Homo sapiens: one gene and its partners. The protein of the gene in region 2 interacts with the protein of the main gene of each other region in a pairwise test. Each region holds a gene or a part of one and is shown on either strand. Other genes may lie near its edges.

The links.
Region 1: the proteins of BAG3 (region 2) and TBC1D3G interact in binary tests that used the Homo sapiens proteins (3 or more experiments, as listed by UniProt).
Region 3: the proteins of BAG3 (region 2) and KCTD13 interact in binary tests that used the Homo sapiens proteins (3 or more experiments, as listed by UniProt).
Region 4: the proteins of BAG3 (region 2) and NR1H3 interact in binary tests that used the Homo sapiens proteins (3 or more experiments, as listed by UniProt).

Annotation. Positions count from the first base shown.
Region 1 is NC_000017.11:36,326,884-36,330,386, reverse strand, and holds part of TBC1D3G (TBC1 domain family member 3G), read right to left. Parts: coding exon of another isoform or gene 3,373-3,503; coding exon 3,333-3,372; intron 2,851-3,332; coding exon 2,770-2,850; intron 2,327-2,769; coding exon 2,219-2,326; intron 1,890-2,218; coding exon 1,780-1,889; intron 532-1,779; coding exon 483-531; intron 1-482. UniProt on the Homo sapiens protein: Acts as a GTPase activating protein for RAB5. Does not act on RAB4 or RAB11.
Region 2 is NC_000010.11:119,667,489-119,672,596, reverse strand, and holds part of BAG3 (BAG family molecular chaperone regulator 3), read right to left. Parts: intron 2,747-5,108; coding exon 2,420-2,746; intron 343-2,419; coding exon 1-342. UniProt on the Homo sapiens protein: Co-chaperone and adapter protein that connects different classes of molecular chaperones including heat shock proteins 70 (HSP70s), e.g. HSPA1A/HSP70 or HSPA8/HSC70, and small heat shock proteins (sHSPs), e.g. HSPB8.
Region 3 is NC_000016.10:29,919,724-29,923,226, reverse strand, and holds part of KCTD13 (BTB/POZ domain-containing adapter for CUL3-mediated RhoA degradation protein 1), read left to right. Parts: coding exon 1-37; coding exon of another isoform or gene 38-91; intron 92-1,265; coding exon of another isoform or gene 1,266-1,373; exon of another isoform or gene 1,374-3,503. UniProt on the Homo sapiens protein: Substrate-specific adapter of a BCR (BTB-CUL3-RBX1) E3 ubiquitin-protein ligase complex required for synaptic transmission.
Region 4 is NC_000011.10:47,260,996-47,264,498, forward strand, and holds part of NR1H3 (oxysterols receptor LXR-alpha), read left to right. Parts: intron 1-245; coding exon 246-454; intron 455-551; coding exon 552-731; intron 732-923; coding exon 924-1,023; intron 1,024-3,503. UniProt on the Homo sapiens protein: Nuclear receptor that exhibits a ligand-dependent transcriptional activation activity.

The DNA.
Region 1 (3,503 bases), on a different chromosome or scaffold from region 2:
GACTCATGTCATTGGAGAGGGCAGAGGTGACTGGAGAGGCTTCCTCTGAAGGAGAGGCTTCCTCTGAAAAAGAGGCTTCCTCAGGATGCACATTCATTTCATGACAAGAGCCAAGTCCATCAGGCACTTCAGCACCTTGTCCAAAATGTCTGCTGATAGCACCATCCTGTGTGCGATGCTGCCAAGCTCCTGGGCTTTGGGGCAGCCCCAGGAGGAGGGCGTCATTTCTTGTTCTGAGAAGTGGTGGTCAGGCCCAGGTGACACCAGGAGTCCGGGCCCTGACTCCTTTGTGTCTCAGCTTGACCCCTTGAGACCACCCCCTTCCTTGGAGGTTTATGCCAGCGGTGAGCTGACATCCTACCTCCTATATCCTGGTGGGTCACAAATACTAACTTTAAAAGAAGCAACGACACCCCCACCAGACACCCACTCCTGTCAATATGGAAATATGGCCCGGGAACCTCACTGCCGGGAATACTCACCGGGTTATACTCCTCATATGCCAGGAGGATGTGGAGTAGTTCCCGCTGCCTAGGAAACAGAGAAAGGGGGCTTTGGTTTGTTTTGTGCAGATGTTGTTAATTTCACTTTGTCTACAAAGCCTAACAGCAAATCCCATTTCAGGTTCAGATGTTTCACCAGATAAGCAGTGAGCTCTTCAGGGCCTGAGACTCTTGAAGAAATGTTTCAGTAAAATCCACATCTGTGACATGCAAATAGCCCAGTTGTACAGTGACTTGCCTGATCCTTTTCACTCTGAATGATTTTTTTTTTCAGTTTGCACACACGCCAGTTCAGTCTGTGGGTGTACAGTTCCTCCACGGTTCCAAACCGATGTGCAGAGTCTCCCGGCCACCGCTCCAGCCCCTCCTGGGGCGACTCCTTCATCCTCCAAGTCTCCAGGGTGGCCCCTATGCAACCAGCCTCTCCCCGATCCGTCAGCCCCTGGCCACCCAGACTGCTTCTCAGTCCCTGTGGTTTGGCCTTTTCCAGAATGGCCTAGGAATGGGAATCCTACTGTGGTAGCTTATTGGGTCTGGCTTCTGTCCCTCAGCAAAATGCATCTAGGATCCACCCACGTTCGTGCGGGCATCACCGGCTCGTTCCCTTTTCTCACTGGGTCTTCCGTTTGAAGGGAGGACCAGCCTTGCTCTCCCCATCCCCGTGTTGAAGGCCGTCCCCGAAGGCTCCGTGTGTGAGTGACGAGGAGTCAAGCAGTGAACCTGGCATGCTGGTTTCATGTGGATGTCAGTTTGCAAATCAGTGGGTTCAATATCTGTGACACTTTGGGGATGTGTGGTTCAAGTCCATCGAGCTTTGTGAGCCACTGCCCAACTGGCTGCCAACGTGGCTGTGCCATGTCATGTTCCCAGCGGACCTGGATGAGAGTTTCCAGGACCCCTAATTCTCCCAGCATTTGGTGCTGTCACTGTTGCCTGGGGGGGGCTCATGGGCCCTCTATCCTGCCACCCTCCCGTGGGTCCTACCATGGGTCCCCATGGGTCAGGGAGAGCACCCTTCACCATTGTGCATGATTTTGTTTGCTGCCTTCCATCTCCTCAGGATCCTCCTGGGTTCTGGCCCCACATGTTCCAGTCTGGCCCAGGGCTTGGAACCAGGGAGGTGCTCGGTTCATGGTGCCGGCTGCTCCCTGGGCCGGGAGAGCTCTTGGCAGCTGTGTCATCCCTCCTGGGTGACCCTGGCTTCTGCTCCGGGGAAGCCCCCATCCCTCTCATTCACCCCATCTCTGCTGGGACCCTGTGGCTCCCGTAGGCTTACTTGGTTCCGTATCGATCCCTGAAGAACATATGCTTCCTTAATGTCCCGCTTATGTCCCGGTCGATGCGCTGGATGTGCTCAGATGACCTCTTGCCCTTCTCCTTCATGATCTGTAGGGCAGGGCCAAGAGGAGGAAGCAGTCTCAGAACAGATGGAAGACTCCCTGCCCCCAGTGGCAGTCAGCCCACAGTCAGCACTTCGGGAAGGAAGGACAGAAGGAAGGTTTCCTTCTGCAGAAAGCTGCATTTTGGCTTGTTACTGAAGCCAGGGAGGGTCACCAGAGCTGAGTTTGTCTGTGGTGACTGTGTCACCATCTGTGCCCAGGGTGTTCATCTGACCTTCACCCCCAGCTCCCCAGGGTGGTCTTGACGTTCCCTCCAGCTGGAGACCTGGGCCCCGACACGGCCTGTCCTGTTTGTTGTGCTCTGGCTGAGCGTACCTGGTATCTTCCGGGGTTTTTCAACTTCATTTCCTCAATGTTCAGGAGGACTGACCACATCGGGCCCCGGATGTTCATGGGCATTCCCTTGTACGCTCGATCTATGAGCTGTGGGCAGAAAACGATCTGGTGTCACAGGCCACGGGGTGACCCCAGTGAGGACCAGAGCCCGGGGATTCTGGAAATTGTCGGTTTTGGCCCCATGATTCCTCAGTAGAGGTGAGATCAAGCTGGGACAGGGTCTCCCTTCCCAGGACTGAAAGAGTGGATGGACACTCAGAGTCGAAACTCTGATCTGAACCTTTTCCTTCCTTCAGGTCCCCAGGGCATCCCTAGCCTTGAGCTCCGGGTAGTCCCAGCCCTAGATTCAGATTCCCTCCCTGCAAGGTGACGCTTGCACGAATAGGCAGGAAATCTGGCGACCAGGCCTGCAGTCCTCTGGGCGAGGACAGTGTGCCGCCCACCCTCTGAGAGGCTGATGGTGCCAGGCCACAGCCATGGGTGCCTGTCCCCTGTCTCTGCAGAGAGTGCTTCCTCCCTCCACACGTTACCTTTCTGCTGCTTTTGTATTTCTCCCAGTCTCCCAGCATATCCACCCACTTGCTCTTTCGGCTGATCTCCCGCCGAATTTGCTGTCAAATGAGGCATGTTGGAGTTAGCGGAGCTGCCAGGCTTCCCAGAGCCGCCCGCAGATGCTGGGTCTTGGGCTCTGGAGCCCTGGTGGGAGCCAGCTGGAAGGAGCCAGGGAAGGGCAGACCTCAAGGGCTGAGAGCCTTTGAGCAAATGAGCACCAGTGGGCTGGCTTTGGGACCCCGGGATGTACCATCCTCAGGCCACAGACACACCAGTCTTAGGTCCCAGCCTCTAGGTGGGGTCCTGACACAAGCGCGCAGCCACCCCCAAGCCAGGACTGTGGTTCTCCTTTTGGAATTTTATCAAACTGCCAAAGTGAACAGCAACCTGGGGTCAGGTCCAGCAGGGACTGCTGCCCCTCCCAGTGACAGCGTGTTGCCCTCACCCGCCACCGCTCAGGCCAGCTGCTTCCTCTGCCTCACTGACCACCCGCCCAGTCCCTACGTCCCTGGACCAGCCCCTCCACGCATCAGGCTCTTACCTTCGCCTCCCGCGCAGTCAGAGGAGGCAGCTCCGTCTCACTGTAAGGCAACCCAGGCAGAGCTGAGGAACTGCACGGGGCCTGGAGCGGCCCCAGCCTGGGTGCCGACCCCCAGAAAGGACTGGCTCTGTCCCTTTCCAGCTCAGGGCTCAGCCCAGGAGAAGGCACAGG
Region 2 (5,108 bases):
GCTCCTGGCTGGTGAGCCCTCCCGGCTCGATGCACCCTGGACAGATGACCTGAACGGGGATGCCGCCCGCAGGGGCCGGGGCTCCCAGTCATCCCCCTGGATCTTGTGGTACACAGGCTGGTGGGTCTGGTACTCCCCCTGCTGCGCTGGGTAGTGCGTCTTCTGGGCTTGGTGGAAGGAGGGCTGGGCTGCTGGCCGGGTAACGTTCTGCTCGTGTATCACCGGAATGGAGATGTACCCCCGCGGGAGCTGGTGACTGCCCAGGCTGCTCCTGCCGGAGGAAGGCAGGCTGGCCGAGGAGGATGAGGATGAGCAGTCAGAGGCAGCTGGAGACTGGGACCGCTGCAAGAGACACAGGGTAGAGGGCATGACCCCACAAATGACTCCCCTGGCTTGGCATCCTGACCACGCCTTCTGCTGTGCACCTCCTCAGGGCAATCCATATTGTAAGACCTCCTATCTGTAATTTTCAATTTTCAAAATGTGCGGTTAAGACTGAGAGCTCTGGGGCTGGGCGCGGTGGCTCACACCTGTAATCCCAGCACTTTGGGAGGCCTAGGTGAGTGGACCACCTGAGGTCAGGAGTTCAAGAGCAGCCTGGCCAACATGGTGAAACCCCATCTCTACCAAAAATACAAAAATTAGCTGGGTGTGGCGGCGCATGCCTGTAGTGCCAGCTACTCAGGAGGCTGAGGCAGGGGAATTGCTTGAACCTAGGAGGCAGAGGTTGCAGTGATTTGAGATCACACCACTGCACTCCAGTCTGGGCAACAGAGAGAGACTCCACCTCAAACAAAGCAAAACAAAACAAAACAAAACAAAACACACACACACACAACAAAGACTGAAGGCTTTGGAATCAAGGGGCCTATGTTCAAATTCCTAGTAATTCAATCATTTTCTAAGCTTCATTTGAAATATAGGAAGAGTGCCCCTCCCTCACTGGGCTGCTCTGAAGATGAGGTCAGTCACCTGGGCATGTGCCTCAGCCCCAGGCCAGCACACAGGAAGCGCTCATACAAGGGATGTGTTGTCCCCACTACCCTTTCTCTGCCAATCTACAGAGAACTCGGCTGAGCAACTGGGAGCTGCCAGCATCCCGTGTGGCCCAAGGCAGGTCAAGCACCTTTCCCTGCTGGGCCACCTTCTATTCACCTCGAAATTGAGAGCATTTCCTCTTCTAAGTGCTTTGTTAGCCTAAATTTGTGAAGATGTCTCGCATTTATGTGTCACTTTGATTTCTTGCAGCAAAACCATTATAAATATAGGCATTACTTATTTTTTTATTTTTGAGACAGTCTCGCTCTATCACCTAGGCTGGAGTGCAGTGGTGCGATCTCGGCTCACTGCAACCTCTGCCTCCTGGGTTTAAGCAATTCTCCTGCCTCAGCCTCCTGAGTAGCTGGGATTACAGGAATGTGCCACCATGCCCGGCTAATTTTTGTATTTTTTGTAGAGACGGGGTTTCACCGTGTTAGCCAGGCTGGTCTTGAATTCCTGGCCTCAAGTGATCCACCTGCCTCAGCCAGGTACTACCTCTCTAAGAAAAGAAAAAAGGTATCCCACATTAACTGTAACTTTCACTCTCAAGCAGGTGTGAAGCTGAACAGATTCAGACGGAGCTGAGAGGCAAGCATGACTCAGGGTGCAGATAGGACACGGGAGTTTGTGCCCAGGAACAACGCTGGCACACACCACAGGATGATGTGCAGACAGGAAAATGAGAGGACTTACTGCTTAGGAATCCTACTAGGAATGCCTCAAATCTCAGCTAAGAACCAGATTAAGAACTATTTTTTAGCTATTAATGCACAGAATCCATTGACATATCCCTGAGATGTTTGGCTTCAGGATTAAAATGCTGTCTTAAAGCAGCTGCCTTCCTGACTCCTTATTTCTTTTGAAACTGTGGTGCACGGTGAGGGCAGGCATGGGGTCTCATTTTCCTGTCAACATAGCTCCACAAGCGGTTAAGATTTATCCATAAGCATTGAACTGAACAAAATAATGCACAGCTATCTCTGTGCTTCTGAATAGAAAGCCCAGTGTGAATAAGGAGCATGGAAATTAGGCGCCAGAAGGCAGGCCAGGCTTCCGGTCCCAGCTCTGCTCCCTCCACCTGTGTGCATCTGGAGCAGGCAGGCTGCAGTGTGCCCTTCCGAGCCGTTCCTTAGCTACAAAAAGAAGCCACATGATTCCTGCCCTGCCCCACTGAAGAACAGCCCTATGAGATGCTGGGGGATGATGTGGGGCCATCACCCTGTCTTTGCTGGGTGACCTCTGATGCTGCAGGCTAGACCCAGATGCCCTGCATGTGAACAGGTGCCTGGCCCAGGGCACTGTCCTGAGGGGATGGGCCCGGCCTGGGAAGCACAGCGGCTTGCTCCCCAGCAGGCTGGTGAGCCTGGCCTCTCCTTACCTCAGGTCCGTGGGAGGCTGGGGGCTGGGCTGCCGCCGCCGCTGCCACCTGTCCACACTGTTTATCTGGCTGAGTGGTTTCTGGCATGCCCCGCAGAGGTGACTGGGACCTCTGAGGAGCCGCTGCTGCCGCCTCAGTTCGGAATCGCTGCATCCCAGGCTGGGGATAGACATGGAAAGGGTGCACCTGCCGGTTCTCAGCGCCTTCATGGAGCACAGGAATGGGAATGTAGCCTGGTCGGAGCTGGGGGTACACAGGGTGGCCTTCCCTAGCAGGCGGCAGCCTAGAGCCCTCCCGGGAAGGGCCATTGGCAGAGGATGGAGTCTCCTGAAATAAAAAGTGGAGAAACACAGGCTGGTTAGAAACTGGGAAGTGAACCCTCCTGGCAGAGGAAACACTGTGGCGCTTGGCATTGTGATCTTCCCGAGTGACTTGGGCCTCAAAGCGTCAGCCAGCTCCCAGCCCCTGTACCCTCCAAACCCCCCACCCCATAGAGGTTGCTATTTGGCCAACAGTTTAGGAATTAGGGGCATCAGGAGAAAGCCAAAAGTATCTGTTAAGCAAAGGAAAGGTCCCAATTCTCCAAACTGGTAAGACAGGTTTCTTTTCTGGGTGACTGAGGGAAGCGGTGAGTGTAGGAGAGCTGCCCATGCCCGCATTTTCAGAGACCCGGATCAGAAGATGAGCTCCAGGAGCAGGGGTCAGCTCCAACCTCTACATTACAGCAAGCGTCTCTGTTTCCAAAAAGGCCCTCACATTTCCCAGCAATATAGAGCTTGTACTGGGCCCAAACACAGGACACAGTTTGGGAATCTTTACAGAGAAGTGGGCTGGGGAGCGAGGGCTGCCTCCTCAGGAGTATTGTTAGAACAATTTGCAGGAAGGGGAAGGACAGGGATGCAGAGGCAGCATAGGGAGAGAGGGGCACCCAGGGTTAACTGTGTCGCCTAACGATGCCAACTGACAAAGATTCTCTGCTTGACCAAATCTTAGGCTTCCGAAGCATCTCCTAGGCCCATCTGTGCACTTCCTTGTAAAGTCAAGTTTTAGCAAAAGACACTGCTAAGTCAGTTTAGCCAGAAACCCCCTCCCCAGCCTCACTATCTGATCAGCTTCCACAGCCTCCAGGTGCTGTCTAATCACCCTGGCCTGTCTTCGGCAAGAATCCTGTTTGGTCAGCATAGCCAGAAACACCCTTAGCCCTGATGTTTCCTCTTCTAATTTTCCATCCACACTGCTCCTTGACTATAAATTCCCAATCGCCCGTGTTGTATTTGAAGTTGTGCCCAGTCTCTACCCATGACTGCACGACCCCACTGCCGTGGTCCCTGTGCCTATCTTGATGGCCCCGAATAAATCTTCCTGACTGTGCTTTAACAAGTATCACTGAAGAACTTTTTCTTCAACGCAACAGAGCCTGCTTGGGCAAGGAGCAGTTGGGGTCCTTCTCTTATGTCCTCTCTTGAAGTTCTCCCTTCAGTGGCCTGGCTATTTTGGGACCCTTGAGAAGGCCAAGTTCCAGATGTACCACAGGAAAGATCTTATTTCAGACAACAAGGCTGGCCAGTCACTCACTGGGCAATGCCATCTCTCAGCAAGCTGGGCTGCGCAACAGAAGTCCTAACAGTCCCCGAGCACCGAGGGTCCTTTCCCAGGAGGGGAGCTACTGATAAGTGTCATTTGCATATATCTGTGTAAGGCAACTCTTAAGAAGGGGAGTGATCTTTCCTGACGAAGGCAGCTGTCTGCACGGCGAACAAACGCCAAAGGCTAACAATCTATGAGCTTGCAGGGGACAATCTCTACTGCTGCGGAATCAATCAAAAGTAAGGACAGATACTGAGGGCTGCTCTGCACTTTGAGAGAACAGACCATTAATTCTGTGATGTTTCTATTTGTGTGCAGGCGTGGGCACCAGGTGGCTGACCCTGGTTTAGCCCTTTCAGGCCCATCAACTGCCTCCCTCCTGCTGAGACCCTGCCCTTGGAGGGCCTCCAGCACACAGGAAAGGCATGGGTGTCACTGTGTCCTTGGGGACATGGGCAGACAGGCATTCTCAGATTAGAACAGCCACGTGCTCAGGGCGGCGGCATTACATTAGCCTGCTTAACTCTCAGGTCACCCAAGAGCAGGAGCAGGTCCAGGCCTCACATTCAGAGCTGAATTCCTGCCGTGAGATGGCCCTGACAGGGAGCCAGCAAGAGGCGCTGAAGAAACCCTCTGCTACTCAGTGTTGAGTCATAACGTGCCTGTGGGCATTCTGTCCACTCACTGAGGTCCTCCTCCTTCCAGCCGAAATCGGAGCCTGCATTAGTCCTGCAGTGTCATTTTTGCTGGCTGCCCAGGGGCTCATTGTTTCTTCCCAGCCACGCACAAAAGCCTCAACCATCTGCACACTCCACACAGCAGGGACCAGCAGTGAGCAAACCCTCATCCACCACCTGGGGGAACATCCTGCCACCCGCTGAGGAGTCCTATGGGGTTACCAAACCAGCAAGGGGCACTCCCTGCCAACAGGGGCTTAGAAGATGGGCTAAGGGGGCAGGAAACAAACAAGAAGCAGAATTACTTGGAAAGCACGGAGGCCCTGAGGGATGGGGAAAGGCACAGGCTCTTCCAGGGTAGACGCTGCCCTAGGTAGGGTCTAAGTGTGATTCGTACCTCTATTTCTAACAGTTCTGTGAGCTTG
Region 3 (3,503 bases), on a different chromosome or scaffold from region 2:
GCAGGGCCTGATTGAGGACTGCCAGCTGGCGCTGCAGGTGAGGGCCTTCGGAGTCCCCATGCCTATGTTCCTGGGAGAGCTGCCCAAGCAGGTATTAGAGCAGAAAAAAGGAGATATGGGGTATGGCTTGGAGAGCCTGGCTTTGGCTGGCCATAACCCCAGAGAATTTGAGGTGCCATCTTCTGCATCCCTGCCGCCTCAGGCAGCACCCCCACCCCAGCCTCATGCCAGGACCTTTGCAATGGTTAAATAGCTGCTCTCTACTTCCCACTGTTCCTATGCAGCCAGTCCAGCTGTTACACTCGCACCTGAGTAATTATCTTTCAGCACAACCCCGATCTATTCTCTCTCTTGCTTAGAAATCCTAAATAGCTCCCTCATGTCACTAGGGAAAAACATCTAAATTTAAATTGAAATATAATAACCTCTGCGATCTGGCCCTATCCTGGGAGGCAGCATTCTCCCATGGCTTCCGCCCCCCAGGAGCTTTCTAATTCTTTTTTTTTTTTAAACAGTGAAATTCTTTATTCAAATGAAATCTCACAGAAGCAGGGCCACTCCCAGTAAAACAGGGTTGGGGATTCTAGAGACCCCACCTGCTAGGCTCCACTTTTGTGGACCCCTTAGGGTTCTGAGGAGCAGAGCTTGGAAAGTGAAGCCAGGACATAAGGGTTCTGTGTCACCTCTGTCACAGCTGACTCAGTGACCTTCAGTGAGTCCATTCCTACCTCTGGGATTCTGTCCTCGGGTTCCGAAAGACAGGGAAGGGAGAAAAATAAGTACAAAGTAGTGAGTTTTACATAAAGCCTGTTATTCTGTTCTATTTTTACAATGTTAAAAATGTCCTTTCTTTTATGTTACAATAGTAAGAGAAGATTATAAAAGTTTCTTTTTGAATGCCCTTTATAGATTAAAAGGTTGCCTCCCTGAACAACTTTTGTCTCAGGGAATACTTACTGGTTCTTGAAGCCCAAAGGTGTAGAACTCCTTTGGACAATATCCATGTTTTTCAAACTTTTTGATTGCCTGCCATAGGGAAAAAATGCATTTTAGTACTCATTATATATAACTGAAATAACAGTTCTATAAAAAGATACTTTTAGTGAAATGTACTCTGATAATCTTTCTTTTTAATGCTGTTTGGGACCCATTACTTATTTCATGACCCATTAATAAATTACCACTTGCATTTGAGAAACATTCATTGTACTAGATCTTGGAAGTGCATTCCTGCTCTGTAGCATTTTTGTTTTGTTTTGAGACAGAGTCTCTCTGTCGCCCAGGCTGGAGTGCAATGGCGTGATCTTGGCTCACCGCAACCTCTGCCTCCCAGGTTCAAGCAATTCTCCTGCCTCAGCCTCCCAAGTAGCTAGAATTACAGGCGCCTGCTACCACGCTTTGCTACTTTTTTGTATTTTTAGTAGAGACGGGGTTTCACCATGTTTGTTAGGCTGGTGTCGAACTCCTGACCTCACGTGATCCATCCGCCTTGGCCCCCCAAAGTGCTGGGATTACAGGCGTGAGCCACCGGCCTGTAGTTTTAAATTTACTAATGTTAAAACTAAAGTTTTAAAACCCGGCCTGTAGTTTTAAATTTACTAATGTCATCATGTACCCACTGTGTGTCAGGAGCAATTCTGCTATCTGCTTGTGTATACATCTTGTATCCTTGTTTGACGTAAAAAGAAACGCGAGGGAGCTTGGAAGACGTGTCCAAGGTGAAAGAGCTGGGAAGCAGCAGAGCTCAGATTTGACCCCAGGCTACCTGACTATCTGACCTTCAGCCTCCCAAGAGCTGTACTTTTCTATACTCCTGCTCTCTCCTTTCCAGGTTCCCTCTGCACCTCACGCAGCTCAGCACACTCCTCAGTGTGTGGCACTTCATCAATATTGGTCTATGCAAACCTTTTGTCTTTTAGTTTTATTTCTTTCCCTTCATTCCCAGTCCCCTGCCTACTTTCCTTTTTCCCAGGGGCACCCATCCAATTTTAATGTTTTGATACATATGCTCGAAAAGCTAAAGCATTGTTCTGCATATGTGTGCATTTTAAATGTCCATAAATGGCATTGAAGCTGTGAATCAGTTTCTGTTGCATTGTGTTTTTTTAATTCAGCACTTTTTTTCAAGATCTATTCATGCTGCTCCAAGTACATCTAGTTCTTTGCTTCTAACAGCTGCAGAGAAATCTGCGGTGTTCATTCACCATATTTTGTTCATACATTCCCCTGAGGTTGGAGACCTAGATTGCCTTCCAGTTCCTGCCCCTACAAACCGTGTCACCATGAGCATCCTGGTACATGCTCCCTTCTGATTCTGTGCCAGTCTCCTGTCATTGTAGCTGGGAGTAGAATTGCTGGATAACAGGACACCTGCAAACGGCGTTTTAGTAAATATCATCTAATTGCTCTCCCGAATGGTTATAATACTTTATCCTCATAATGAGCAGTGCATAAGAGATTACATTTCTGCATGTCCTCATCAAGACATGGCATCATCCAGCTTTCTAATTTTGCCAATCCAATGAGTGTAGCGTGATCTCATTTTCATTTGCATGCCTCTGATTACTAATGAGGTTCAGCATCTTTTCATATACTCACTAGTGTTTTTTTGTTTCCCTTCCTGTGAATTGCTTATTCATGTTCTTTACCAGATTTTCTGCTTTTTTCTTTTTCATGTTGCTTAGCAGGAGATCCTTGCATATTTTAGTTTAGTTCCTAGGGATAATTAAGCCCTACTGCATATGGGTATGTCTTATACATTCCCTAGGGCATGGATTATATACATAACAAATTAACCTCTAAGCCTGTAGCATGGGACTATTTACCTACTGTTCTCAGCAAAGTTCAGAAAACACTCAAATTATTTGCTGTTTTTTTGTTTTTGTTTTTGTTTTTCTTTTTTTGAGGTGGAGTCTTGCTCTGTCGCCCAGGGTGGAGTGCAGTGGCGCGATCTTACCTCACTGCAACCTCCCTCTCTGGGGTTCAAGTGATTCTCCTGCCTCAGCTTTCCGGGTAGCTGGGACTACATGTGTGCACTACAATGCCTGGCTAATTTTATCATATTTTTGGTAGAGATGGAGTTTCGCCATGTTGGCCAGGCTGGTCTCGAACTCCTGACCTCAAGTGATCCACCTGCCTTGGCCTCCCAAAGTGCTGGGATTCAGGCGTGAGCCACCGTGCCTGGCCATATTTGCTGGTTTTTGAGATTCAGATGAGGAACTTCAGTTGAAAAAGTCTGTTCTAGATAAAAATTTCTAGTCAATGTAGATATCGCCAATATTTTTTCTTAGAATGTCACCCACTTGTGGCATCTAGCATTGAATGGAAATCCTTGATTTTTTAAAATTACAAATAACCATTGATTATTTTAAAGCAGTATTTATTAATTGTAGAAATTTCAGAAACACAAATAATCTAAAAAATAAAAGCACCAAATATTCTTCCAGGTCGTTTCCTGTGTGAGAGTATGTGTGTGTGTGTGTGTTTGCTTGCCAAAATACAAT
Region 4 (3,503 bases), on a different chromosome or scaffold from region 2:
AATCACTTGAACACGGGAGGTGGAGGTTGCAGTGTGCCAAGATCATGCCACTGCACTCCAGCCTGAGCAAGTGTGAGACTCTGTTTCAAAAAAAAAAAATCTTCTTGCCTTTACCCAGTGCTGTCTGCTTTTCTGGAGCCCCAAACCACCCCCTTTGCCCCATCCTTCCCTCCTGTCTTTCCCCCACCCCCTTGCCCCATCCTTTCCCCATCTGCTCCCTTCCTCATATTTGGCCCTGTCCTTAGGTGTCCTGTCAGAAGAACAGATCCGCCTGAAGAAACTGAAGCGGCAAGAGGAGGAACAGGCTCATGCCACATCCTTGCCCCCCAGGGCTTCCTCACCCCCCCAAATCCTGCCCCAGCTCAGCCCGGAACAACTGGGCATGATCGAGAAGCTCGTCGCTGCCCAGCAACAGTGTAACCGGCGCTCCTTTTCTGACCGGCTTCGAGTCACGGTACTTGACACACCTGGGGAGAGGCGGCTGCGCCCAGATCACCAGTGGGCTTCTTGATGTCCGACTCAAAGCGCTTTGCCTTTTCCCTCCTGGGTAGCCTTGGCCCATGGCACCAGATCCCCATAGCCGGGAGGCCCGTCAGCAGCGCTTTGCCCACTTCACTGAGCTGGCCATCGTCTCTGTGCAGGAGATAGTTGACTTTGCTAAACAGCTACCCGGCTTCCTGCAGCTCAGCCGGGAGGACCAGATTGCCCTGCTGAAGACCTCTGCGATCGAGGTGGCTGGAGAAGGGCAAGGGATGAAGGGAGAAGCAGAGTGGGATTATCTGTGGGAGGGGCCTCCAGACATCGAGCTGGGAGAGCCAAATCTGCTGGGAAGCAGGGATGAGGAGAATCGGCCTCCCTGGAAGAGGCCATGCTCCAAGACCAGCCCTCCTAGTCCCCGTTTGAGGTTTGCTGCTTGTGTGCAGGTGATGCTTCTGGAGACATCTCGGAGGTACAACCCTGGGAGTGAGAGTATCACCTTCCTCAAGGATTTCAGTTATAACCGGGAAGACTTTGCCAAAGCAGGTGAGAACTGAGATCACACAGGGATTGGGGTTGGGTGGACAGATGCTTCTTTTTTTATTTTTTATTTTTAAAAATTGAGGGCCAGGCGCGGTGGCTCATGCCTGTAATCCCAGCACTTTGGGAGGCCGAGGTGGGCAGATCACCAGGTCAGTAGATCAAGACCATTCTGGCTAACACGGTGAAACCCTGTCTCTACTGAAAATACAAAAAATTAGTCAGGCATGGTGGCACGCGCCTGTAGCCCCAGCTACTTGGGAGATCGAGGCAGGAGAATCACTTGAATCTGGGAGGCAGAGGTTGTAGTGAGCCAAGATCGCACCACTGCACTCCAGCCTGGGCAACAACAACAACAACAACAAAAATTGAGATAGAGTCTTACTATGTTGCCCAGGTTGGTCCCAAACTCCTGGCCTCAAGTGATCCTCCTGCCTCTGACTCCCAAAGTGCTGGGATTACAGGCGTGAGCCACCCACCATGCCCGGCCAAGTACTTTTTTTTTGTTTCATTTTTTTTTTTAGACAGAGTTTGCTCTGTCACCCAAGCAGGAGTGCAGTGGCGTGATCTTGGCTCACTACAACCTCCGCCTCCCGGGTTCAAGCAATTCTCCTGCTTCAGCTTCTCAAGTAGCTGGGATTAGGTGCACCACCATGCCCAGCTAATTTTTGTACTTTTAGTAGAGACAGGGTTTTACCATGTTGACCAGGCTGGTCTTGAACTCCTGACCTTAAGTGATCCATGTGCCTCAGCCTCCCAAAATGCTGGGATTACAGGCATGAGCCACTGAACCTGGCCAGGACTGGTGCTTTTTGTCAGAGGCCCATAGTGACTACAGAGCCACAGGCCCAATGTTTGGGTGGCTGGTAAGGGAAGGCTCCCTTGTTTTTTGAAGATAGAAAATTGGAATGCTGATAGGCTTCTCTCAGCTGCTCCAGATAGACCCCTGTCCTCTGTTGCTTTAGGTCAGTGGTTTTCAAACTGTATTCCAAGGAACCTGAGAGATATATGGAATGGCACCTTGGAGGAGAAACAGGGAGGCACAGGAATGTCCTTCATCTTTACTTTAGCCAAACAAGAAGCTCCATTTAAATCTGCATTATATATTGCACTGCTACATAGTATTTTGCTTGCAGATTTTACAGCTTGAAAAAAAAGTTTGAAACTCAGTGCACTCAACTTTTTAGTAGTCAAAAAGTGAACAAATCTTCCTCACATGTGCTCTTTGGGGATCATGGGGGCTGATTTCCCCTACTTTTTTTTTTTTTTTGAGATAAGTTCTTGCTCTGTCACGCAGGCTGAAGTGCAGTGGCATGAACGTGGCTCACTGCAGCCTCAACCACCTGGGCTCCAGTAATCCTCCTGCCTCAGCCCCCAAGTAGGTGGGACTACAGGCATGCACCACCATGCCAGGCTAATTTTTATATTTTTTTGTAGAGAGTGGGTTTCGCCATGTTGCCCAGGCTGGTCTCAAAATGGTCTCGAACTCCTGAGCTCAAGTGATCCACCCACCTCGGCCTCCCAATGTGCTGGGATTACAGGCATGAGCCACCACACACAGCCTCCCCTACTCTTTTTCTTTTTTTTTCTTTTCTTTTTTTTTTTTTTTGAGATGGATTCTCACTCTGTTGCCAGGCTGGAGTGCAGTGACGCGATCTTGGCTCACTGCAACTTCTGCCTCCCGGATTCAAACGATTCCCCTGCCTCAGCCTCCTGAGTAGCTGGGACTACAGGCGCGCGCCACTACGCTCAGCTAACTTTTGTATTTTTAGTAGAGATGGGGTTTCACTGTTTTGCCCAGGCTGGTCTTGAACTCCTGAGCTCAGGCAATCCGCCCGCCTTGGCCTCCCAAAGTCCTGGGATTACAGCCATGAGCCACTTGTCCAGGCCCCTCCCCTACTCTTTTTCAATTGCACTTTCTGACGAACCAGAACCATGGCATGGCAAACATGCCCAGAGAGGATGTACAATAAGAGCGAATGCTTCCATCTCCATCCTATATCTGAAGTATTTTCTCCAAAAATTAGTTCATTCTGCGGCTCTCTATCTGATGCTCGCTTGGGAGCTACGCAGAAGGGGTTTCTTCATATTCAACTATTGATAATGTTTGTATCATGAGAACTGGCCTGGGAAAGGACGGGAGGCTGAGGGAGTTTTGGAGGGACTGGAATTGAGCTTCAGCAGGAAACCAAGTAGCTTAACGACTGGATGAGTGGGGCTGTAAAATATGGCTGATGCCCTGACTCCACTCTCAGGGCTGGTAGATCTGTGGCCAGGCCAGTCATCAAGCCTTCCTTGGTTTCTGATAACTCAGGCCAGCTCACGTGCCTCTTGCTCTCCCAACGCAGTCCACCCAGTGAGCTTTCTAGGAAGGCCACTCTTCGCTGTAGGGCATAACAGGGCTATGTTGGCACCTTTTGCCTTCTATAGTAACCGGTGTGCTGCCTGGATGTATTGACACCTAATGGGGTGATTTAATGACTTTA